7 linked regions of the Homo sapiens genome follow. The protein of the gene in region 3 purifies or fractionates together with the protein of the main gene of each other region. This does not show direct contact. Each region holds a gene or a part of one and is shown on either strand. Other genes may lie near its edges.

What was found.
Region 1: the proteins of PON2 (region 3) and NXPH4 purify together in Homo sapiens (affinity purification with mass spectrometry; 2 studies listed by BioGRID and IntAct, with this or other methods). This does not show direct contact.
Region 2: the proteins of PON2 (region 3) and POMGNT2 purify together in Homo sapiens (affinity purification with mass spectrometry; 3 studies listed by BioGRID and IntAct, with this or other methods). This does not show direct contact.
Region 4: the proteins of PON2 (region 3) and LRP11 purify together in Homo sapiens (affinity purification with mass spectrometry; 3 studies listed by BioGRID and IntAct, with this or other methods). This does not show direct contact.
Region 5: the proteins of PON2 (region 3) and SPPL2B purify together in Homo sapiens (affinity purification with mass spectrometry; 3 studies listed by BioGRID and IntAct, with this or other methods). This does not show direct contact.
Region 6: the proteins of PON2 (region 3) and NETO2 purify together in Homo sapiens (affinity purification with mass spectrometry; 3 studies listed by BioGRID and IntAct, with this or other methods). This does not show direct contact.
Region 7: the proteins of PON2 (region 3) and UGT8 purify together in Homo sapiens (affinity purification with mass spectrometry; 3 studies listed by BioGRID and IntAct, with this or other methods). This does not show direct contact.

The regions. Positions count from the first base shown.
Region 1 is NC_000012.12:57,215,392-57,219,593, forward strand, and holds the start of NXPH4 (neurexophilin-4 precursor), read left to right. Parts: upstream 1-1,402; 5' UTR 1,403-1,578; coding exon 1,579-1,635; intron 1,636-4,202. UniProt on the Homo sapiens protein: May be signaling molecules that resemble neuropeptides and that act by binding to alpha-neurexins and possibly other receptors.
Region 2 is NC_000003.12:43,099,580-43,103,079, reverse strand, and holds part of POMGNT2 (protein O-linked-mannose beta-1,4-N-acetylglucosaminyltransferase 2), read left to right. Parts: intron 1-3,500. UniProt on the Homo sapiens protein: O-linked mannose beta-1,4-N-acetylglucosaminyltransferase that transfers UDP-N-acetyl-D-glucosamine to the 4-position of the mannose to generate N-acetyl-D-glucosamine-beta-1,4-O-D-mannosylprotein.
Region 3 is NC_000007.14:95,425,029-95,428,528, forward strand, and holds part of PON2 (serum paraoxonase/arylesterase 2), read right to left. Parts: intron 1-3,500. UniProt on the Homo sapiens protein: Capable of hydrolyzing lactones and a number of aromatic carboxylic acid esters. Has antioxidant activity. Is not associated with high density lipoprotein.
Region 4 is NC_000006.12:149,819,360-149,822,859, reverse strand, and holds part of LRP11 (low-density lipoprotein receptor-related protein 11 isoform 1 precursor), read left to right. Parts: intron 1-2,156; coding exon 2,157-2,311; 3' UTR 2,312-3,500.
Region 5 is NC_000019.10:2,331,684-2,335,183, forward strand, and holds part of SPPL2B (signal peptide peptidase-like 2B isoform 2 precursor), read left to right. Parts: intron 1-2,918; coding exon 2,919-3,038; intron 3,039-3,500. UniProt on the Homo sapiens protein: Intramembrane-cleaving aspartic protease (I-CLiP) that cleaves type II membrane signal peptides in the hydrophobic plane of the membrane. Functions in ITM2B and TNF processing.
Region 6 is NC_000016.10:47,109,446-47,112,945, forward strand, and holds part of NETO2 (neuropilin and tolloid-like protein 2 isoform 1 precursor), read right to left. Parts: intron 267-3,500; coding exon 38-266; intron 1-37. UniProt on the Homo sapiens protein: Accessory subunit of neuronal kainate-sensitive glutamate receptors, GRIK2 and GRIK3.
Region 7 is NC_000004.12:114,601,807-114,605,306, forward strand, and holds part of UGT8 (2-hydroxyacylsphingosine 1-beta-galactosyltransferase precursor), read left to right. Parts: intron 1-3,500. UniProt on the Homo sapiens protein: Catalyzes the transfer of galactose to ceramide, a key enzymatic step in the biosynthesis of galactocerebrosides, which are abundant sphingolipids of the myelin membrane of the central nervous system and peripheral nervous system.

The sequences.
Region 1 (4,202 bases), on a different chromosome or scaffold from region 3:
TGTCTCCCTGGGTGTCTCTGAATCTGCCTCGTCCTCTCAGCACCGGTCCTTTTCCTGACTCGTGTGTGTGGCTGTCACGTCCCATATCTATCTGTCCATTTCTTTGTATGTGCCCCCACTTGTCTTCTGGGCTGCCAGTGACAGCATACACCTGTGTATGTCTCAGTGTGTGTGTCCACCTCTGTGGGTGTTTGCTCTCTGCCAAGACAAAGAGAGGGTGAGCGCACTGAGCAACTGTCTGGGTGTGCTCGTCTGGGTGCAGGTGTGCTCACCTCTGTTGCTGTGCTCCTCTGTGTGTTGGGGTGCCGCTAGGTGTGCGCCTGTCTCTGTATTTCGCTCTGTGTGCCCTGTCCCCGTGAAGGCATCTGCGTGCATCCCTGGGGTGGGCTCTCAAGGGATGTGTCTGTCTCTCAGTCTCTTTGCTTGTCCCTATCTCTGTCTAGGTGTTGGTCATACCACAACCTCAGCCACAGCCTCAGTGCATAGCAACAGCTGACAGCTGAAACCACCCGGGCAGGAGAGAGAGAGGCAGTGGGGAGGAGGGAACCGAGGAAGAAACAGAGAAGAGGATGGGGGCAGAGAGCTGGGGCTGGGGACAGAGACAAGGACAGAGATAGGGAATGGGGACAAGGATCTAGAAGAGCTGGTGGTGAAAGATGGGACGGCGGGAGGGGAGGAACAGAGACTGCACCAAGAGGCCAGGCAGGCGGCGCTGAGAGGGATTTCCTGCCCAGCCCCCATGCAGAGGCGCACTGGGCCTCGTGGGGGTCAGTGGTGGGGGCCAGGGGCAAAGGTGAACAGCCGGTCTAGCCGAGGGGTCCTGAGACCGCAGAGGTGCGGTGAGGCGGGGACGGGGCGGAGGGCGCCGTTTGTCAGCCCTATTGACAGACGTGATGGGGTTTCCGTCCGTGATCAATGATTCTCATCTCCGGGCCGAATGAGCCGCGGGGCGCCCATCCATCCCCGTCAGCATCGCGCGGCGGCAGCCGCCCGAGGCCCCGCCCGTCCCCACCTCGGCCCCTGCCCTGCGCCTGCCCCGACACACCTTGGCCCTGAACAGGGCAGAGGCCCGGGGCTTGGAGAGCGTCGTCCGGCTGGGCTCCGCGGCGCCCCCACTCCAGGTGCACGGGCCCGGAGCCCAGAGCCCCACGCCCTGCCCCGTTCCTCCTGGGCGCACAGACGCGGCCTCTCGGGGGACCAGTGCCTGAGCCCCTCGACCCCCTCCGCTTCGCACCTGGGCCAGGGGCGTGTCCGGGGCGTGCCGGTGTGAAAGTCACCTTCGGTGCCCCCAGCTGGGCGGGAGGGGGCGCGCGGGGCGCGGCCGGGATTGGAGCGCCGCGGAGCCCCGCCCCCCGCCCGCGGAGTCAGACCCAACTTTCTCCCCCGCCCGCGCCCCGCCCCCAGCGCCGGCTCCGCGCCTCGCGCCCAGTCCGCGGGCCGCGCCGCCGCTCCCGCCGCTCCCGCCGCTCCCGCCGCTCCCGCAGCCGCCCCGCCGCCCGCCCGGAGCCCCGCGTCCCTAGGCCTGGCTCCCGCCTGCCCGAGACCCGCCCAGCCTGCCCCGCTCAGCCGCCAGAGAAGATGCGGCTGCTCCCGGAATGGTTCCTCTTGCTCTTTGGCCCGTGGCTCCTTAGGAAGGTAAGAGTGGCAGGGCTGGGGCGCTAGCGCGGGCGCGGGGTTCCGGGACGCGAAGGTCCCAGTGTGCGAGGGGCTCCGTGCGCCCGCCCCGCCCCCAGCTCCGAGCGTCCCAACTTTGCGCGGCGCGGGGGAAGCGGACAGACAGACTGCCCGATTCAGGACGGGCACTCTCCTAGCGCAAGTTGGCTGAGGCTTGGAGAGGGTGCCGGGCGGAGGTCCCCCTTGCAGCCGACTTCAGGCGCGGCGGGGGAGGGGACGAAGCCCGACCCGCGAGTGCGCCAGACAGAGCGGGAGTGCGAGACAGACAGACAAGCCAGCAGGGTGTCAGCCTTGCCGTCTTTCCGCGCCAGTCTCGCTCGCCTGCCTCACTGTCTGTCTGTCCTTCCACCCCTCCACCCCCGCCTTCCCATTTCTCTTCTCTGCACTTGTCACCATGCCAGGTGGGCTCTGTGTCGGGAGCATCCATGGCCCGAGCACACACGCACACACGGACTCAGGCAGACACGGCTGAACTTGGCTACAGCCAGCCTCCCATCACATTTCCCACGGAGACACCATCTCCCCTGCACGACCTCACAGACACACCCCCCTCTCGTGCCCCACTGAAGGGGGAGGCTGTCTGGAAGGGGAGTCTCTCCTCCCATGCCCTCCCTGCCTCCAACCCCACTCCAAGGCCTCTTTCCCTGAGGCTCTCGGGCGAAGAGCCAGAGGCTAAGGGAGCTCAGACTTGATCTGCCTCCTTCCTGACTTGGAGGCTTCAACCTGCGAACATGCTGTGCTCATATGTGCTGGGTGGAGGGCGTGGGTCACCGTGTGCACCTGTGTGCATGTGTCCAGGGAAGCCAGGCTTGGTCCAGTACTGGGGCCGAGGGTACATGTGTATACTGGTGTGGTGTGTGGTGTTGGCTTTGCATGAGTGAGTGTCAGTGCCTGCCTCACAGTGCAGCCATCTGCCTATGCCCCTGGTGTGTGCCCGCAATGGGGGCCCAGGCCCCAGTCCCCCATTTTCCTTCTACCAGCCTCCCCTGCCTATGGCTTCCCTGTTTTCTGACCCCCAACTGTGACCTACCTAGTTTGGGGGCAGGCAGGTCATTCCCCAAACCCTCATTCTCTGTACCCTCAGCCCCTGTAGAGTCTAGAAGGGGTGTATTTCTTCCCCCAACACTTGGACCTCTGCCTGCTCAGCCAAATCACATTTGGCAAACCCCAGCAGGGCAGGGGCTGCCCCAGTGAAGCTAGCATTAGAGCTCCCTGGCCCTCCCAGCCCCACCTGGTGACCTTGAGGGGCTGCACGGTAGGCAGAGGAGCCCCTCCATGAAAACTGCTTCCACTAGCAGGAGCTTCTTAGGGACTTGCTGCCCAACTCTGTCCTTAGTGAACTGGAGGAGTGGGGGGGGTCTGTGCCCTACCACCCACCCACCCATGTGTGAAGGCCTGGGGTCAAGAGGTGGTAGGTATGGCATTCTCTTGCCCCTCCTTTCCACTTCCTCCCACCTCATCTCCACTCTCCCAGGCAAATAAACTCCCCTGTGGACAGATCTGGTTTAATTTCCTTTGCCCCCTGAGGGGGAATGAAACATCTGGTGGAGACTTGAGTGAGAGTGAGCGTGAGGATATGAGCAATGGGATCTATCTGAGTGTGTGTGTGTGAGCTGCAGCTGTGGGGCCTCCGTGTTGGAGTCAACAGGGAGAGTGGATCTGCTGGTTAGCCCAGCTTATGTGCATGTGAGAATGTGTTTACATGTGTACACACTGCGGGTGTGTGAATATGTATAACTGCACGGGGAGGTGTGGGTATATGAGTGTTTGTGTGTCCAAATACCTGTGTGTGCTTCTGTGCACTTGTGAGTGTGGCGTATGCACATGTATACCCCGGGGTTTCTGGTGCATCTGTGTGCTGGGGCCCATGTGTTGTCTGTATGAGTCTCTGGGGTTTGTGAGTGTGTTTCTGTGTGCTTGTGATTGTGAGTGCATTTGAGTGTGCTATGAGATTGTGAGCCTCAGGATGTGTTTATGTATCTGAGTGTGGCTTATGTGTGTGGGTGCTCAAGGGTGTCTTGGTGCCAGCACTGGGAGTGGGCAAAAGGTGAGGCTGATCCTGGGTAAGAGGTGGCTAGGGGACAGTTTACAGGGCAACTTTTTGGCAACCCTAACCATGAACGGCTGACACCTCTGCCTCTCCCGTCCTGCTTGCTCACCCTCCTCCAGGTTTCTCTCCCTTCCTCCTCACTCCAGGCTTCCCATTTCTCAGAGCCTGGGACTCCTGGCTTCCACTGCCTCTGGGGTTCTGGCCTCTCAGCCAGGGATTCTTGAGGATCTTTCTCATACAGTCTCTGACTCCTTTCCCTCTCTCTCTGTCTCCCCGACCCCTTGCCAAAGCAGCTGCCTACTGGGAGAAGCAGCAGGCGATCAATAGTCACTAATCACTAATCACTAATTACTAATTAGCTGGGGGAGGGCAGGGGCGGGGCCCTGTGGGACCTGCCAGCTCTATCCCGCCTCAGGAAAGGATTAGGTCTGATTCTCTTAGAGCTGGCTGGCCGAAGCCCCTCAGCCAGCTACCCCCT
Region 2 (3,500 bases), on a different chromosome or scaffold from region 3:
CATGGGATAAATTATCACACTAGTATGTTACTTAGACTCTCCTTAGGGTGAGAGAATGGCCACAGCTCCCTAAGCCACCTGTCACAGCTGGGTACCCTCTGCCTGGCTGGGTGGGGAGGAATTACAGCAAGAAGCCTTGGGTTGCTAAGTTACAGTCCAGGGCCTGTGGTTCTACATTTCCAGGGCCACCACACCTGCTCTGCCCTTGACTAATAAAAACTCACTGCTCTACAGTCTACTCTGCTTATCTGCCATTGAGTGTTCCTCCAAGTCTGATGACAGATGAGCACGGTACTAAGAACAAGACCTTAGTGAGAGGCAGGTTCAAATCCTGGTGGCCCTTCTTGAGCTTTAAGACCTTAAGCAAGGTACTTAACTCCACTAAAACTTGGTTTTCTCATGTTAAAAGAAAATGGGGATAATATTGGTACTGCATTGGAGGGTGAGGCTTAAATGAAATAGGTCAGGAAAAAGGCTTAAGACAGCGCCTCTCGCATAGTAGGTGCTCAGTAAAGTAAGATGGTGAGACCATTCATCTTTATCCCCTACCCAGAGGCCAACATCCTTTTTTTCTTAGTTAACCTGGACAAGTCCTTTTGTTTTCTCTGGCTTCCCATGTCTGCACTGGTACATACTCCAGCACCTCTAAGAGAATCAGATCTTTCACTCTGCCAGTGGTGACTGCCATTGGTACAAGCTTATGCTACAAATTTATCTGTTTTCTCCATTCTGAAAAGGCTAAGAGAAGGCCCCTTCTTTGCTGTGTAGTTGCTCCTCAGCCCTGAGCTAAGCCTTAGGAAGGGACTGGGGACCTGGTCTGCTGTATTGCCACACCCAGTGATGAAACACACCCCGGGGTCCTTTGACAGTGGAGGTTTGTGGCAGGAATCATGGCACATCCTGGAGTGGCATCTGGAGTTGCCACAGTTGTGCTGGGTCCCAGAGCTTCCAAGAGAGTCACACAGTAGCCATTGTAAGGAACTGGAGATGCTGTCCAAATTTGCTCTGTTCAGGGGCTTCTTTCTCGGGGGACCTACCTCCTCTCTGCTGGCCTGCAGGGATGGCCATCTCCCTATGTCCTCTACTGGTGGCTGCTTTAGACCCAGACTCCATCCTTAGTCCATTTAGCTGTGGCCAAGAGACCTGGACTCGTTTCTTGCCACTCCCACACCACAAATGGTGCACTTTGTGTGGGAAGGAATGGGTTGGGGCAACTTGTCTCAAAAGGGAGCTTAGAGTCTGGCGGACTTCTCAGATTGTCCCAGAGCTTAGGCTTATGCATCATCTTAGCAAAAGGTAGGAACAGAATTTATTTAGCCTTTACTGATACTTATGGGGAGGGTTATTCTCAATTGAATTAGTTGTTTAACCTGGGCTAGATAGAAATGCCTTGCTGAGTATCGCAAAATTGTGAAATGTTAGAAGAACCTCAGAGCAGTTCCCCTCAGTATTGTGCACACGCAAGAATCACCTGGAAGCTTTATTAAGACACAAGTTCCTGGGTCCTCATCTCAGAGAGATTCTGGTTCTGCAGGTCTGAAGTGGGGCCCAGGATTCTGCATTTCTCAGATCCCAGGTGATACTGCTACAACAGGTCCACGGATCCACTGAGTCCTGCTTTGGAAGACACCATGGCCAGCCCTATCCCCGCTGTGGAGTAGTCCACATGGGTTGTTTTTGTTTTTTGCTAGACCACTTCCAGGCAGGGGCTCACTGCCCTACAAAGTAGCTGATTCCTCCATGCTCAAACAGCTCTAGTCTTTAGGAAAGTCTTCCTCCAACTGACCATGCTGAGCTCCACCTCCCCATGACTTCTTTTTGCAGTTCTTACTCTAGGTCCCTGAGCAGCTGGCACAGCTGTGCTGGGCAGGACAGAATGGGAATCATATGTGCCCATAGTCCACACTTGTGCCTAGGGCTTGGGTTGCACGTGTCACCATCATGCATGTGTGTCCAGTCAGGTAGAAGGGGTTGCATCCACTCCTCAGGAGCAGCCTCACTCTTGTGCAGCAACTCAGGTATTTGAAGACACCATGGGTGCAGGGGCTTCTTTTCTCCAGTAAAGTGGCCCTACTCCTTCTAGCATCCTACACAGTATAGGGGTTCTCAGTCCTTCCTCATCCTGGCTGCCCCAAGGTGAGTGTCCCAGAAAGACTCACATAGGGTGGGGTTGTATTAATGACTAATTGTACAGACTCTAATTCCTCACGAAAATGCATAACCTGAACCTAATCATGAGAAAACATCAGACATTGAGGAATATACTAGAAAATAGCTGGCCCTGACTCTTAAAAATTGTCAAGATCATAAGTTGAAGATAGACTGAGAAGCTACCCCAGATCGGAAGGGACTAGAGAGCGGTGATAACTGGATACCATGCTTCATCCTGGACTGGATTCTGGACCAGAAAATAGAAACCATATGTTAATAATAATATCATTGTCATTATAGTATCAATATTCATTTCGTTAATTTTTGTGGTGTGAGAGAATGTTTTCATTCTTAGAAAATACATGCTAAAGTATTGAGTGCTAAAGGGGCCTGATTTCTTCAACTTATTTACAAATGATTCAGAAAAGAGAGAGAATTTGTATACAGTTGCCCTCCTCAGGGAGACTTGTTCCGGGATCCCCCACAGATACCAGAATCCAAGGATGCTCAAGTGCCTGTTATAAAATGGTGTCATTATTTGCATATAACCTACACAATCCTCCTGTATACTTTAAGTCATCTCTAAATTCTTTATAATACCTAATACAATGTAAATGCTATGTAAATAGTTGTTATACTATATTGTTTTTAAATTGATACTTTTTTTGTATTTTTAAGTTTTTTTTGAATATTTTTGATCCACAGTTGGTTGAAGTCACATATGCAGAACCTGCAGATATAGAGGGCTGACTGCATATAGAGAGAATGATTAAACAAAGATGTCAAATTAGCAGTTGGTGAATCTGGGTAAGAGTGTAGGAGAGTTCTTTGTCCTATACATGCAACTTTTTTTGTAAATTTAAAATTATTTCCAGATAAAAAGAAGGAGATCGCAGACCCTGTAGCCAGCCTACCTGGGTTAGTCTTATCATTGCTTCCTCTGTAAACTTGGCTTTCTAACCTTTCTGAGCTTTGATTTTTACCATCTATAAAATAAAGATTATCATTGCAAAGTGAAGAATCTGGCACCTAGTGATTGGCCAGTAGATCTTAGCTATGATAATATCATTATTATTAGGAAAGGGAGGAGTTGAGGGTGACATGGTGGTAATGAGACCAAAGGAAAACTCAGCCTAATTCTGTCACCTCCTTCTGCTTGCTGATGTGGGATCTCAGGGTCCCTGGGTATCTGGCAGGGACCTGGCTGCCATAAAGCGTCACCCTGCAGAAGGCTTTGCAAGTAGTCACCTGAGCCCATAGGGCTCTACTGTTGAAACCCAGGTCTCCTGGCAGCTTTATCTCCTGCCTTCCCTGGCACTTCTGTGCCTGCCCCACAGCCTGGGCTCCCC
Region 3 (3,500 bases):
GGCATTGCTCAGAGCCTGACACACCAAAGACATCCCACAAATAGTTACTAACAAAAAAGAAAAGAAGGTAGCATCCCTATGACAGTATTTTTTTAAATAAGAATGTATTTATCTTATTTCAATAGCTTTTGGGGGTACATGTGGTTTTTGGTTACATGGATGAGTGATATAGCAGTGAATTCTGAGATTTTAGTGTACCCATCCATGACAGTATGTATTGGAATAGGAAGGTTGGAGAACACCAACTAGTTCTGTAACTACTTCAGCAAAACTATTTGCTGTTGTATACCCAGAAAATTAAAAGAAGGAAATAATAAGAGAATGTTGAACTCTAATAGGATGTCTTCCCCCTCCCTCTCCACTCTAGAGGGCCAGGAAGCAGTTTGGGACAATATCTGTGGGATCTTTTGTTTTGAAGGCCACATACTATTGGCTTTCCCTTCTCTCTCACATTTTTCACCTTCTCTGTTCTCTAGAGCCATAAATAATAAAAATAGCACCTTGTAGAAACTTTACATTTTTCAGTGGTTCCCACATACCATACATTTAAGAGACGAAATAGCTATTTGCCATGTGTCCTTCTCCTGTGCATATTCCTGACAGCTTCTGAGGTCTAGACACTGGGGAAGGCTTCTGGAGTATGGGGCAGGCTACCAGTTTCTTCTAGATAACCCAGAATGACTCATAGGTTGTACCAACTACACATTTTGGCAATTCATATCAGACATAAAGTTTCTAATTAAAATGTTAATCAGTATGTATTTGAAATCATGTAACTCAAATAATGTTAAATTTTTTGAAACAATATAGCAATAAGGCAAAAAGTACAAATAAATCAATATTTAAATATAATAAAAAATAATGCATTAAATGTATTAAATAATACAAATTTTTAAATAAGGCATTAAAAAATACAATAAATCTCATGGCCTACGTGTCACAGAAGTGATTTAAGAGAGGAAAAATAAGCTAGAAAACCAAATACTGCATGTTCTCACTTTAACTGGGAGCTAAACAATGGTGCACATGGACATAAAGATGACGATGGTAGACACTGGGGACTACTAGAAGGGGAAGGGAAGGGAGTAGACAAGGGCTGAAAAACTATAGGGTACTATACTCACTACCTGGGTGATGGCATCAGTTGTTCCCCAAACCTCAGCATCAGACAATATACCCATGTAAAACCTGCACATGTACCCCTTGAATCTAAAATAAAATTGAAATTATAAAACAGAGAGAGAAAAAAAAAGTTTATGTAGCCTAATGTGGTAGTAATCTTAATTGTGATGATGAGGATGACACTGATGATAATTGTGGGTGGTCAAAGGAAATAAATAATAAAAAAGTATAATTTACCGCTGTTCTAAGTGATTTACCTCCATGCATTCATTTAATTCTTCAAACAACCCTGTAAATTAGGTAGCATTATTCCAGTTTAAAAGATGAGAAAACTGAATCAGACAAAACAATTTTCCCACGGCGCAACTTAGCCAGAAGTGCTGGAAGCAGGGAAGCTTTTGCTTTAAACTACTTTGTACTTTTCTCAGAAAGAAGTAAAGGGATCTGTGTTCTTGTCTCAGCAGTGAAACTGCCATGACCCTTGGCAGGTCAGTTAATCTCTATAGGTGTCAGTCTTCTTTATGGATAAAATAAGGATGAGCCTAAAACACCTCCAAGATTCTACAAATGTTATATGACTCCAGAAACAGATGTAGATACAAAGCAATAGGATGTAACTGCTGTTTGTACACCAAGTTTTAGTATCATGCATTGGTTTGGATGTCAATTTTACACAACTTACTACTATGCCTATTTGACTATACAAAAATAGGGATAACGATGTTTACCATCTACCTTTTTCAAAGATAATCTCTTTGGATTAAATAAAATCTGTTCAAAGTAACATATTCTGATGTGTTTGAAAAGTTTAATATGGGGTTCCTGTTTCAGAGTCAACTTAGGTTTGCGTAAGTAATTGGTGCTAAATAGGGCAATCTTCATCAACTAGTTTTCTTGTATAATATCATGTTTTCATATGCAGCCTACCTGCTATTAACATGGAAGAGTTACATGAGGGTTGTGCATAACTTCTACTTAACTAATTTTTTTCTTGGCTTTCCTTTTTGATAAAAGAAAATGAAGGTTTTGCCTTTATCCTTCCTGGACCATCAAGACTTCCAAATTTCTTCAGTAGGAAACTGCCAGACTTTTTCCCTGGCAGAACAATCAGTTCCCTGCTTGTTAGTGGACTTCTGTTTTCTGGGTGGCAGACCCTAGCGGCTGACAAAATTAACGCCATGCCCAACCCCCTTTCTTTCTCCCTTGTCGTTTCTATTGTAGTGGTGGGCAAAGCAAATATTTGCTTTCCCAGACTCCGCTGTATTGAGGTGTAGTCATATGACCCAGGTTTTGGGGAAAGACACTGTGTTCTAGATACAAAGGAGAGTCACGAGAAGAGAGCTAGCTGGCATCACTCAATCTCCTTTCTTCATGATTTGAACACACACGCAGTGTTTGAGACTGCGGCAGCCATTCTGCATCCTTGAGAAAGATACAGCTATAAAGTCAATAGGGGGAGATCAAAGAATGAAAATATATGAAGAACCCAGTTCCTTGATATAATCACTGGCTCAATGAACAAGCTCTATATTGGGTCACCCACAGAGCTGTTTTTCATGTGAGGAAAATAAATCCCTCTTTGAATGAACTACTATTAATCTGATATATGTTACTTGTGGCTGGAAGCAATCCTCGCTGGCATCAGATTTAAGAACTTTGTGTATTTAAGAAATACATATATTTCTCTTAATATAGAGAAAGCTATACAAACCTTTTTGGATTAGATTAATAAATCTAAAAGTATTCATGTAAAAAATACAACATAAATGGTATAAACACATATAAGTGATGATATGAGAGGAGGAACACTCTTTACTTTTGCTAGAGCCTATTTGTTCCCTAACACTTTATGTCTATAACATGCTTATGACTGTGCCAGGTCAGAGATGCATGGCTGTTGCCACTCTGCTGTCATGCAGGAATTGCTAATCAATAACAGCACTCTCCCTCTAACCCAGAGCCAGCCTCAGACACATTGTTTCGCAACCACAGGGAGTCTGTTAAAATTGACACTCAAAAGGAAAGCTATTTGCCTTCTCTGTTTTAGGTTCCTTTTGTTTTCCTTTCTTTTCTTTTTCATTACAGTTATTTATTTTATTATTTCCTCATCACGAGCCTATGGTAGGTATAATACAGCAAACAGTATCCGCTGGCTTCCTTCATTGGTGTCACAATCATTCCCCAAGTGACCCCTATGGAGTCCAGTGACCAAGGAATCCATGGGTAGAATTCAGGGATCCATGAACTTGGATGGGGGAAAAATACATCTTTATTTAAACCTTTAACTCAAATTGAGTATTTCCTTTGATGATGAGTATAAGCAACAAACCACAATACTATTAGTAGTATTTGTGACTGTCACTAATAGAAATTATAGA
Region 4 (3,500 bases), on a different chromosome or scaffold from region 3:
ATGTCAAAAAATAAACTTACCTCCTTCAGCCACCCAACAGTCTCTATCATACATCAAAATCACTCAGGCAAAAATCCTACAGACCAGGTAGATGGACCACCTATTTTATTAATACAACTATGCTTCATCTATAATTCTATCATAGTAAGTATAACACTTTGTTGCATTTTTTCCCATTTAAATGTCTGTCTACCCAGACTTACTCGTTCAAAAACTGTCTCATTTACATTTTGTAGAAGTAGAGTACCATAGTGGATAGAACCACAGGCTCTGGGGCTGTCCTGTCTGGGGTTATTTGCTAGCTCTACCACTTAACAATCTTAGACAAGTCACTTCAGTCTTTTTTTTTTTTTTTTTTAAGACAGGATCTTACTTTGCCACCCAAGCTGGAGTACAGTTTAAGAGCTCACTGAAGCCTCTACCTCCCAGACTCAAGTGATCCTTCTGCTTTAGCCTCCCTAAGTATTGGGATTATAGGCATGAGCCACTGTGCCCAGCCTCACTTCTCTTTTTTTTTTTTGAGATAGGCCCTTACACTGTCACCCAGGCTGGAGTGCAGTAGCCTGATCATGGCTCATAACAGCCTCAACTTTCTGGGCTCAGGTGATTCTCCTACTTCAGCCTCCCGAGTAGCTGGGACTGCAGGTGCATGCCACAACTGGCTAATAATTTTTTGTAGAGACAAGGTCTCGCCATGTTGCCCAGGCTGGTCTCGAACTCCTGGGATCAAGCAATTTGCCCACCTCTGCCTTCCAAAGTGCTGGTATCACAGGCCTGAGCCACCGTGCCTGGCCCTCACTTCATTGTTGATGCCTTAGCTCCCTCATTTGTAAAATGGGGATAATAATAGCACCAACTTATGTGGTGGTTGTGAGAATTCAGTGATTTAAGCTATAAAGCTGGTATTCTTGGCCTTAGCTTATCTTGAGGGGGGTGGTATTTATTTACAAATAAAAGGATTATCAGCACTTAGCTCAGTGTCTGGCACATGGAAGAAGGCTTTTAATGAATGCAGAATGAATGAATAAATGAGAGCAAATGGTATAGAATGAGCCTACACAAAGGAGATGTTTCTCCTCTAGTTCTACCAGTTGGCAAGATCCCTACAGCTAAAAACAGTTCCACCATATAATCTCCAGACCTGGCCTGGCCACAGAGTAGATCAGACTAAAAATAGAGCCTGCTAAGCTTGATAAAAAAGACTGATATTGGCACACCCTGTCCTTCCAGACTCCTGCAAGCCTCGCTACTTCTACTCTGGTGTCTAGAATCCACCTCACAGGAAAAACTAAAGAAATGTTTTCCTTTAATGTCCAAAATCACACCAGCATATTTGGAAGTTAGTTTTCAACAAAGGTTCTACTGACTGAGTCAGTTCCCTGGATTTAGAAGGAAATAAATTTCTTAAGCCCTAACTAGAACAAGAAATCAGGAGTTAGTTCATACTTAGTTGAAGAATGATCATGTATGAATTCATAAATATAGTCAATGACTACAACAAAAAAATTTCGTGATCAGAATGCCTATTTCAGTTGGATATGAGTGATCAGATGGTAGTATGTGTACCCATTGATGCCATACAAATTTTGTAGGAAGCTGGTAGAGAATTTGGTTTTAAAGAGGTCTGTGTTGGCCGGGCACGGTGGCTCACGCCTGTAATCCCAGCACTTTGGGAGGCCGAGGCAGGTGGATCACGAGGTCAGAAGTTTGAGACCAGCCTGGCCAAGATGTTGAAACCCCATCTCTACTAAAAATACAAAATTTAGCTGGGCACAGTGGCAGGCACCTGTAATCCCAGCTACTCGGGAGGCTGAGGCAGGGGAATCGCTTGAACCCAGGAGGTAGAGGTTGCAGTGAGCCGAGATTGAGCCATTACACTCCAGCCTGGGCAACAGAGCAAGACTCCATCTCAAAAAAAAAAAAAAAAAAAAGTCTAGGTTTGGGACCTGAACCTACAACTTACAGCCTCCTAGGCAAATAAGCAAATTACTTAACCTTGGTACACCTTAGTTAATCTGCAAAATAGTGATAATACTAATAACAATTTGTTTGGATTAAATAAAATAGTGCATGCAAAGCGCGTATCATATAGTGACCAGTAGCTGTCACTGTGACTAATCACTGGCTTGCCCTCTTCATGTCTAACCTTCTCAAAGGTGCAGTGCTACCCCTGGCGCTGGGTTTGGCTATCACTGCTCTGCTGCTTCTCATGGTTGCATGCCGACTACGACTGGTGAAACAGAAACTGAAAAAAGCTCGTCCCATTACATCTGAGGAATCGGACTACCTCATAAATGGGATGTATCTATAGTAATGTAATTTCAATACCTTGGGGCAGGGACATGTTTTGTTTATAATTTATACATCTATTAAGTTCTGGATATTTACAGCTTCTTTTGTTTTTAATTGGGCCAGAAGATTCTGCAAATCCCAAATCTTTCTTTATTATTTATTGTAAAAAAAGTTTCCTTAGAAGTCATAAAATATTTTGAAATTTAGAGAGGAATTCATGATTAAAGATTCCTAAAAATATAATTCTGATTTATGTAAGCTGTCCCTGAAAATAGAAATGTGTACTTAGCTGAGAGAAAATTCAGCATCTCAGGAGGTGGTATTAGGATGACTGTGTTAACCCATTACCTTTTAGAAGCCAACTGTTGGCCCCTTACCATGCTGGACTGCTATAGGCCCAGCTTCCCCTTGTTCTGTGGCCCTTTTCTTCCTCCTTGAAGCTCCCAGTATTCTTTTTCTTTTCCCCTCTAAACCTGTTTCTGAGAGTGGATCTCAAGCAAGTTCATGCCTTCAATCAGATGTTACTTAGGGTGGGTATACCTAAATTATAAACCTTATGTACAAGTCAGTAAGCCTTAGGGAAGGTGAGTGTGGGTCCTTCCTAATCCCTCTGACGTCATGTCATATAGGTGGCTGCCTCCTTAGACTGACCTTTGGGAGAAAAAAACCCCAGACTTTGAATTAGTAACAGCTCTAAGATGGTCATGCAGTGAGATAGGAAATCAAGATGGAAGCAGAGAATCTGGCATGCCAAAAACTAACAGAAACTTAGTTGAAGGCAAAGAGAGCAAGGAGAACGTTTAATACTTCATTACATCAAATCAACACTGCTCCATGGTGAGAGCACAGCAACTCATTTATATATATATATATAGGCTTTGTTGATGAAAAACGACAATTGAAGAGAGGACGTTGAGTGGATTCCTGGGTACAGCTTTTGTAAAAATGTCACCATGGCTTTCATCCAATGGAATGAGTCGATGTTTTTTAATGCTATAAAATGTTAGAATGTGCCATCAGCTAATGCCAGGCTTACGTATTTCTAGACCATAAAGCAGTTTTTCACAAATTCATCTTTACAGAAAACCAGCATCTAGCTTAGCATCTTTCCCCTTTTAATTTGTAGGCTTTTAAAGGCAAATCATTCCCACCATCACTTAACGCCGGGATTATACACATTCTAGAAATGATTCTGAGAGGAGTGTATA
Region 5 (3,500 bases), on a different chromosome or scaffold from region 3:
TTCCCATTTTACACAAAAGACACTTTTCACCAGAGTCCCTGATCCCATAGAACAGAGCTTGGCAAGTGTTTTCTGGGAAGGGCTAGACAGTAGTTTTGCTGGGCTCTGTGGCCCACGTGGCCTCTGGTTTGGTTGCTTGGTTTCTCCTGTTGTTCTTCCAGAGCCGGAGACCCTTCCTTAGGAATGGGCTTGGCTGTGTTCCAATAAAACTTTATTTACAAACACAGAAGGTGGGCCGGACTGTGGATTCTTGGCCTCTGCCGTGACCCATAACATCCCTCCTGGAGGAGGGGTTCTGGGGGGCTGTGTTGGAAGGGGCACCCTCCGGGCTCGGCACCGGGGCCAGACTAAGGGGTGCTCTCACGGGCAGGCAGTCTGGTGGGCAGAACTGGAAAGAAAGGGCTCCTGACTCTGCCTGGGCTCTGGGGGAGGTCACATGGGAGGTGCTTGGAGTGGGGCTGGGGCAGCTGTGGGAAGGAAGCAGCATTAGCCAAGAGCTATGAGACCCCCAGTCGATTGTGGGGACCGGGGCTCCGTGGGCTTTCACCATGCTGCCACCCCGAGGTCACCAGGGCCTTGACCCAGATGCTCCCAGACCAGGCCGGAGACTTTGCATGATTTCAGTGATGAGGGCCCGGCTGTTGGAGAGCCCGTCTGTGCCTGTGTGCTGGGGTTGGTGTCTGGCACCAGGGACCTTTGGGACCTTTAGCCAAGCCAGAGCTGTCCTTCCCCAGTCCTAGCTTGGCAGAGCTGCGTCTGCACTGTTTTCCCTTGTGGCGTTGTGGTGTCGGCCCGTTTGGTGCGCAGCTCAGCATCCGTTCAGACATGTGGCTGCCATCCTGTTCCTGATGAGGCAAATGGCTGTGGCCTGTTTGTTTCCGTGACAGGTCCCCTGGGGACCAGGGGGTGCGGCTGTCTCTCTGTCTGGGAGGTTTACAGCCTGGCAGGAGCCCTGCAGCCCCAGAAGGCTGAGGGCTGGGTGCTCCTGAGAACGGGCAGGCCTAGGGCATGGGGTGGGTCTCCTTGGTCCCTGGCACGTGGTTTTTCTTCTGGGACCCCTCCTCCCTGTGCAGGCCGGGCTCCCCTGGGGGCCCACACTGAGGGTCTGCAGTGTGGCACAGCAGCTGGGACCTGGGCCCCATCGCTGTGAGACCCTCTGGTGACTGGCATCCTGGCGAGATGGAGATGTCTTTGTCAGCTGCTGGGTGGGGGCCCTGGGCAGGGGAGCAGAAGGAAGGTGGGGATGGCAGGTGCGGGCGGCTGGACTGGGCTCTGCTGGGAGGGGGAGCAGGAGGAGGGTGGGGATGGCAGGTGCGGGCGGCTGGACTGGGCTCTGCTGGGAGGGGGAGCAGGAGGAGGGTGGGGATGGCAGGTGTGGGCGGCTGGACTAGACTCTGCTGGGAGGGGAGCAGGAGGAGGGTGGGGATGGCAGGTGCAGGCGGCTGGACTGGGCTCTGCTGGGAGGGGGAGCAGGAGGAGGGTGGGGATGGCAGGTGCGGGCGGCTGGACTAGACTCTGCTGGGAGGGGAGCAGGAGGAGGGTGGGGATGGCAGGTGCGGGCAGCTGGACTGGGCTCTGCTGGGAGGGGAGCAGGAGGAGGTGGGGACGGCAGGTGCGGGAGGCTGGACTGGGCTTTGCGGGAGCAGGAGGAAGGTGGGGATGGCAGGTGCGGGCGGCTGGACTGGGCTCTGCTGGGAGGACCGTGGTTCTGCCTAGGCCAGAGCCCTGCAGTGTCCGCCGTGGTCCCTGCGGTGGGAGGCGTGGTGAGCAGTGCCAGCTTCCTGCTTGTGGAATCCGTCTTTCCTCATAGCTCCATCCTGCTCTGTTAAGCATTAAATTGAAGAGGTGGGGGTCGTCCCTTCTGGTCCAGGCCCGTCTACTCCGCAGCCCTCCTGGGAGGCGTCCAGGGCTTTGGGGCCTGGTCCTGCCCCCTACTTCATTTTGAGAGCGTGGCAAGGGCCCCAGCCCGTTCTGTCCTGGGCGCGGTGGCCACCACCCCTGCTTCTCTTGGCTGGCTTTGGCCTGTTGTCCCCGTTGTGTGTCAGGGGCTCCTGCCCGTGGATCCGGGCCTTCTCCCTGTGGCCTTCTCTGAGCTGCTGCTGCTGCAGGCTGGAGAGCAGGAACTTGAAGCCCTGGCTGGCTGTTCCTTCTCCCTCCTGCGAAGTGGGAGCTGCTGTGCTGGACTCTGCTGCTTTGGGGCTTCATGGGGAACATGACGCTGTCTGTCCTGCTGGTGGCAGCGTGACCTGTTGCAAACCTCAGCCTGTCCCACTCAGGACCCGGTGCCCGTAGGCCCCTTGGCCCACCTGCTTCCTGCTGTTCTACCAGTGGGAGCTGAGGGGTGCTGATCTGGGGATCCCCCTCGTCTGGGCCCCACCGTGTGCCTGGGCCCCCGTGTGCCTTGGAGCACCAGCCAACAAGCAGTGCCCACGGGGCTGTGGGTCAAAGGCCACCCAGACCTGAGGGGTGCAGAGGCTTGCTTGTCCAGGCCTCCCGCCCAGGCTGGGGGCCAGGTCCGCTGGGGCCCTGCCCTGCTTCCCTGCTCAGGGCTCTGCCCGTGGCTCTGCCCGTGGCTGTCATTCTCCCACCGTGCCCACTGATCCTGGGAGGCCCAGGAGGTGGTGCGATCCCTGTTTTTTGGTGCAGAAACTCGGGAGCCACAAAGGGGTGACCTGACACACTCATGGTCACCAGCCTGGGGCTCCCTGAGGAAGGTGAGCCAGTCTGGGTCTTTGCTGTAAACCACGTATGGTCACGTCCCTGTCTGTCCTGTCGAGAGGGGGAAGCATCCCAGACCACCTGGTGAACATGGGCGCCCTTCCTGGAGGCGTCCTCCCCTCCTCGGGCCTGTTTCTCGTGGGGCGGTGCAGCCCCGCACGTCCCGTGCTGTGGCTCTGACTGCTGGCCTTGTCCTGCAGGTGGCCTGTGAGTACGGCATGGTGCACGTGGTCTCCCAGGCCGGGGGCCCCGAAGGCAAAGACTACTGCATCCTCTACAACCCGCAGTGGGCCCATCTTCCGCACGACCTCAGCAAGGCAGTGAGTACCCGCTGGCCGGGCGCCGCTGCGGAGGAGAATGCGGGGGCCCCGGGGCTCTAGAGACACATCCGGCTGGGGTTGCAGGAAAGATCCAGAGGCGAGAGGCAGGCCCTGACCAGGTCTGGGGGACTCTTAGCTGGCCCCCAGTTCCCCTGGGCCTCCCCAACCCTGGTCATCAATGCAAGCTGTCCATGCGGCCTTGGGGTGCAGATCCAGAGGCACCGGCCGAGCTCCATGTGGTAGATAAGGGTCTCTACTGCTCCATGCCGGGGACCCTATCCAGTGGGCCCAGACAGAGGGGTCCTCAGAGGAGTAACAGCAGAGGGCACAGTGGGGCCCCAGGGACGAGACCTGTTCCTTTCACCGTCTTCCTGACTGGGGCACTAACACCTGCTGCTGGATGAGTCCCTCCCTCAGAGGCCCCACCTCCTTTCCCACTTAGTCCTCATGCCCCGCCTCCTT
Region 6 (3,500 bases), on a different chromosome or scaffold from region 3:
GTAAAAGATCTCAATACTATAGGAATTATTTACTTACGCTCCACAAAGGAAGTAAAGAGCATTCGAAACCTGCTAAGCCGACTACCTTCATCTGCCCACATTCGAATCACTCCAATTCCTGTTTTAAGCATTACATCATTGGCCACAGTGCTGCAAAACTTGGCCTTCAGGTTTTCAATAGAACTGCTTCCATCATAGACTGCAACGAAGTTTCTCTTGCATTCATTTGAGTGCTCCATTTGATAATCTAGGAACCTCAAATAAATCTGTAATATTAACACAAAAACACTGCTTTTAAAAAGATATATTAATTTGAATTTTTCTATTTCTATTTTCCACAGACAACATGGGACACCGAATGACAGCTGACAGAAAACCATAATCGATAAATGGCTGATGCCTAAATAGTGAGAGGAACTAAGATTAATGATCTGTTTCTTTGGTTGTCTTTATAATGGAACCAAGCATTAAGGAACTTACTTTGTGTTTTGTCTATAAAGAGTAGAAACTTTTTGCTCACAAGGCATAACTATCTCACATTTTTCTCATTATAAAAGCAATCTCATGGTACTGGACAGGGGAGAAAATAAAATAATCACTCATATTTCTATTATTCCAACAATGCATGTGATTAATTGGTGAGTTTCTTTTCACTCTTTCTGCACATTAAAAAAACCTGTGTTTAATTGTAAGATATACACATCCTACTTTAGCTGTAACATATAAAAATGTTTTTATCTATACTCTTAGCCATACCTATTCCCGGATGTCCTATTATTTATTTACACAATATCCTACTGTTCTACATGGTTGCTTTATTTCACCTCTTAACAATACCTGCATTTTCAGACAGGCAGACGTCAACTGTACTATCAAAGGAAGCTCTATTAGCATCCCCCATTCAAATTTTATAGCTAAATGGTTCTAAGTTATTTCCTAAACACTCTTGACCCATTCTTGTTTGGCGATTTCTCTTACATTGTGAATTTAGATTTTAAGCATTAATCTCCAGAAGAGCCTAATGAAGTAGGTATCATGTTTTTTTGTGGGCAGAGATGAATCTGTTATTCGGTGGCAAGGATTAAACCCAGGTTGGTCTGACTCTAAATGTGCGTCCTTCTCATTCCATGAAGCGCTTTACATACTCACACAGTGTTCCCTGTTTGGGCTCTAGTTTCTCATATGTGACTCTATCATTAAAATAAAATTTGAGTGAGTGAATAAAGATTACCTTTGAATTGCCATTCAAGACATCTAATGAGTATTCACTTCCTAGCTATTATTTCTGAGGGAGCAGTATGCCACATCTACCCTTTAATTCGAAGAGATTAATAAAACAAAAATGTCATGTCATATATTCCCCCCCCACCCCACCAAATACCTTGATGGCATAAAACTAAGAGAGAACAACTTACAAAATATAGCTTAAAGAATTACATTTTGACTAAATAATTTTGGTTTATTTGAAATGACTGGTTCACCACTTCCGTGAGAATGGTGGAAAATTGGTAATGAAATAGGATTTCCAGTTCAAAACTTTACAAAGTCTTCATGCGTGTATTTTAACAAAGAAGCAATATGTTTTCTTAAATATATCAACAGTTCTCATTAGTTTTCCATCACTTATATAACCCAAACCCTCCGCTCACACTCTGGTAGCGAGCTCTAATGCTGTAATGACTTCCCTCTTCCACTAGACTGTGATGTCTTCCAATGGAAGGTCACTGGCTCAGTTTCATCCAGTATAATTCTTGCTCATGGCAGACAATGAGAAAGTGACTAGGCTTGTAAAACTATGACTTGGTAGAAGTATCAGTAGAATAATCAAGCTGTCTGAAGTATTTATATTTACTCTCTGCTTTTCTTTTAATCCAAATAAATATGGTATTATATAAGGCTATAGTAAATGCTCTTCAAAGACATATTTTTAAAAAAACATCGAGTTAAAGATAAATAATAACAAGATCACAGCACTTTTCTACTGTAAATACAGCTAAATATTGAATTGTTTAGTTCAACAAATTTTTGGGAAATATTCATAACGTGAATCTGACAAATTGCAATGTTGGGAGAAGGGCATAAACTACTTTTCTTTTACTCCAGATTGCATGAGAAGGGATCTTTTACTTACAACTTTCATCAAGTAAGTGACCTCTTACCCTATCCCTATATCCTACCCAGGGAGGCAGGGCAAGTTACCTGGATGGTGGGAGTTTGGTTTCTTTTTCCCTCCCCTCATAGGAAGTGGGACTGGGTAGGCCGGTCTGCTCTGCAGATGCGAACTTTCCCTGGAGTGGAATGGGCTGTTCTAGACTTAGGTGAGACGTAGAACTGGTGGGCAAGGAGTTGCCAACACTAATTAGATCATCTCTCTGCGTTGCTCTCTCTATCCTAGCCTTCACTGTGGTAAAGAGGCTTTTCCAACTCCCTACACACTGACACTTTTATTTCTCAATTGGTTCAGCACTCCACCAGGGAAAAGGGATGCTATTTATTGGAGCCCCTGAAGACCCCAACAGAAATGAAATCCCCAGAAAGCTACTATCATGAAAAGGCCACTGATAAAAGTGGACTAAAACACTATTTGTATACTCTTAAACATCGATGCCTTCTTTTGTATATTTATTTTTAAAATATATTTTTAATTTTAAAAATAGAGACAGGGTCTTGCCATGTTGTCTAGGCTGGTCTTGAACTGCCAGGCTCAAGTGATCCTTCCGCCTCAGCCTCCCAAAGTGCTGGGACTGCAGGCATGGGCCACCGTGACTGGCTTCTTTTTATATTTATAAATGGATATTTTTCTTAAACATCACCCATGAACTAGTTTCTCACATTTAGTATTCAAGGGTAATGGTGACTTTTAACATTTAATTTAGATTTCTTAAATAAAACCATCTATTTACACTTTTTTGTTTGTTTGTTTTCTTTTTTTAGACAGAATCTCACTCTGTCTCCTAGGTTGGAGTTCAGTCGCGTGATCGCGGCTCTCACTGCAGCCTCCACCCCCAATTCAAGAGATTCTTGTGCCTCAGCCTCCTGAGTAGTTGGGACTACCGGTGTGCACCACCACACCTGGCTAATTTTTTGTATTTTTAGTAGAGATGGGGTTTCACTATGTTGCCCAGGCTGGTCTCGAACTCTTGACCTCAAGTGATCCGCCTGCCTCAGACTCCCAAAGTGCTGGGTTTACAAGCGTGAGCCACTGCGCCTGGCCTATTTACACATTTAAACATTCAAATTTTAAAATTTGATCCAATTCCCATGTCAACTGTAATAATTTTTTTAAGTTTAACTGATTTACTTTTATTAAAAGCAATACAACATTCTTCTATAGTCAATATTCCAGGTAACGCTCCTAAAAATTTGTGAATATGGAATTATCTTTTCAAGGAATATTTCAATGAAGAATGAGATCTAATAAATATTGTTTAATTTCACTTAAAGCACACTTAATATTTTCATACTTACATATCTATAAAAATATGTTGTATTGTTCCATA
Region 7 (3,500 bases), on a different chromosome or scaffold from region 3:
GAAGTACCATTCTTCTTTTTATGTTTTTTTTTTTTTTCTGGGTCCTCTTTCTGTTATTGGCTATCACTTTCTGCTGCTGTCAGACTGTGAGTGGGCCCTGCTGCTCTATTATCTGTTGTCTTTTTTTCCATCAAATGATGTGGGCTATTGCCCGAGTGTAAATCCTGTAGACTTTGTGACAGACACTTTCAGTTTACGTGCTTTATTTGTGGTTTGGACTGTGAACTGAAATGTTTAGGTTTCCAGAAGGGTGACCTCTATATAAAAGGTTTTAATGTACCTTTTATAGAAAAAATTTGTGTATGAGATCTTTAGGAGGGTGTATTAATTTCAGACAATTCAGTCTTCTGGAATATCTTGGTGTTTCTGAGAAACTGAAGCAGCCTTTAAAAAAAAGTTTACTTTCTTATGATAGGCCCAGATCGTCTTTGTTTAGGAATATGTATACTAGAATATTTTACATATTACTTTCTGCCATTGAAACTTACTAACTATAATGTAGTGTAGTTAATATTTTTCTACCCCGGAAGTCCAGAATAAGAAGTATGATTTGAGAATCCTGCTAACCATACTTGAGGCTACATGAATTATTTAAATATTATTTTGCAAATCTACTTATGGAGGAGGTACATAATCAAATACATATGATTAAAATGGTTTAATTTGATCTTGAAAACAGTGGTAATCATATCTCCTTAATCTGAAGCATTTCACAAACATTCATTCTTTTATTCAACAAATATTTGTTAAAAGCATACTGTGTGCCAAGCACTGTGCTCTGGGGATGTGCATACAATTAAGGCCCTGGGAGGGCTCTAGGTTTAAAAGGGGGAGACAAGGAGGAAACAGGCTATTTTCAATATCTACAGTATAGTGCTGGCTGTTCTGTAAGTGCCGTGATAGAGATACACACACAGTACCCTGAGCAGAAATTTGGAAGTGGTCAATTCTGTGTGGGGACAGGAGATTTGAGGGTTTCTTAGAGGGTGACATAAAAGATGAATCACTGGAGGCAGGAGCAAGATCATGGAGGGCTGTTTGCCATTCTCAGGAGTATGGACTATTTTCAGTTTAAGGTTGTTTTAAACAGAGGAGCTATGTGATGAGAAAACAGCTCTTACAGCAAGCAATCTAGAAGGATGGATCTGAGGAATGTGAGATTTGGATGGTAGTTTAGAAGATATTGGGGTGGCTTTGGTAAGAGAGGTTGAGGTCCTTGTACCAAAGTGTTGGCAGTGGGATGAAAAAAAGGGGTTTGGTTACAACGATATTCAGGTGGTAGAACCTCTAAGATTAGGTGACCAATTTGGTTGGAGGATTGGGAGTGGGTGGTATAGGAGGATGGGATGGGAACTTAAAAGGAGATCCAGATTTGAGAGCAAGAGTGATAGAGTTCAGTTTTAGACATGTAGAACTTGAAGTGCTTATAGAAAATCGAACTGGAGATGTGTGTCCAGTGAATCATTGTATGTGAGTTCTGAGCACAGAGGTCCTGGGCTAGATAGGCAGGTAGATAAATGGTAGGTAGATAAATGGATAGACACACAGAAACATTTAGGAGTTTTCAGTGTATAGGTAATTATAAACCGTGAAAGTTGATAGGTTTTCCAGGGCAAGTACCAAAAGTTAATAGGGAAACAGAGGCCTGGGGAGATCCTAAAATTTAAGAGTTGGGTAGAGAAATAGGAAGCAATAAAGAAAAACGAGAAGGTACAGAACAAGAGAGGCAAGAGGAGAGTTAGGAGGGTGTAACTTTTAAAAGCAGCTGAAAACTGAGAAAATTTCAGAAAGTGAGAAGGTCAGGTACTGAAATGAGGGGGTGTTAGACAGTCTCGGTTCCCACCCCCTCTCGAGCCCCGAATAGCTCTGTGACCTTGAGCTCACAATTTAGTTTCATTTCCTCATTTAGCAAATGAGGGGAGAAGCACCTACTTTATAGGGCTACTGTGAGGATCAGATGAGATAAAATCTATCAAGCACAATGCCTGGGAGGTTACTCCTTTGTGTTTAACAAATGCTACCTGTTTTATGGAAACCAGGACTTGGATTTGTGATTAGAAGGTCCGTAGTCATTTTTGCTTTCACAAGTACTCGCTCTCAGAATTCACAGAGAGTGATTGAAAATATATTTTTAAGATGAAAATTTGATCATACTTTTAACTTTTTTGGTTAGAGGCCAGTAGAATAGCAGCCATTGAAAGTTTTGAAGGGAGCAGAGGGAGCCAACTGAACAAAAGTCCTTGAAGAGAGAGTGGAAGTTGCCTCAAGAGCGTTGCAGAGATGTTGGGTTTCTCAGGACAATCCATGCTTCCGCCAGTCAGGAGGGTCTGGTGGCATATGCATTGTGTTTAAAAAGCACCTGGTAATTAAACCTCCAGGTTTCTAATGTCTTGTTTAAAGTACTCTTAGTATTTTAAGTGTGTTCTAGTTCCTTAGATAATCTATAAGGACATTGATTATACATTTTAGTATTAGCTGAAAATAAACTCAGAAAACAATACAGATGATTTCAAAATTTAACAAAATGTAATTTAATATTTGATGATTCCAAAGGCACCTCTATACCTCATAGGGTCTTAAAAATCAACATGTGAAAAATAATTATTAGCCTGTGTAATAGGGGAAGGACTGATTTGTAGAGGTTTGTTTGCTTTTTTTTTTTTTTTCCCCCAATTAAGACTACTATGGTAATATTTAAATATACCTACTTTTTTCCTAGGATTTTCTGTTTGGATGAAGTGATGCTTTATATTAGAGATTAATAAACATTTTAAATTAGATTTCTATTTTAATATGTGTATAAGTTTTTTACTCTGTAATTACTGCATAATTTGAGAAAATGTTTACATCTATGCAGTGGTTTGGAAGTCAACCAACAATTGCACATAGTACATATTGTTTACTAATTGGTTATAAGGCATATAATAAATATTTGTTGTCCCAATACATGTTTGTTGAATAAAACAAAATTAGATATTCCATATTTTTAAGATGAAATGAATTTTATATCTGTAGTTTTAATATTTAATCATATTCTTTACCTGAAAATCGCTAGCCATACTTTTCGTTTTCAGCACTTCTCTATTTTGCAGTTGTGTTTCAGTGCTTTTTTTTTTCCCACTGTGCTTAGTCCTTCACGATTTATGGCCCTGTTATTTGTAAAGCATAGTAATCTAAGCAGGTGATTTTCAGTTTAGGATTTCTTCTAGTTCCATGTTGTATATTCACCAAGTCAGTTTTAGACTATATATTGTCATGCTCAGCACTCCCTTACAGAGATAACAGATGCCAAGTTGAAATTGACTTATACAGAATGCCACACTTAGGTAAGTGTTTAGGAGTGCATAGCCAAAATAAAAATGGTACCTTTGGTTTATGAATGGCAGGGCATCTAGGACAGTGTAGGTCAGTTCGTATTCTCTGGATGGACATTTATGTAAATATTAAAACATTTAGATTAGATGGAAAGATGTATAGTAGGAACATTTCAGAGATACTGT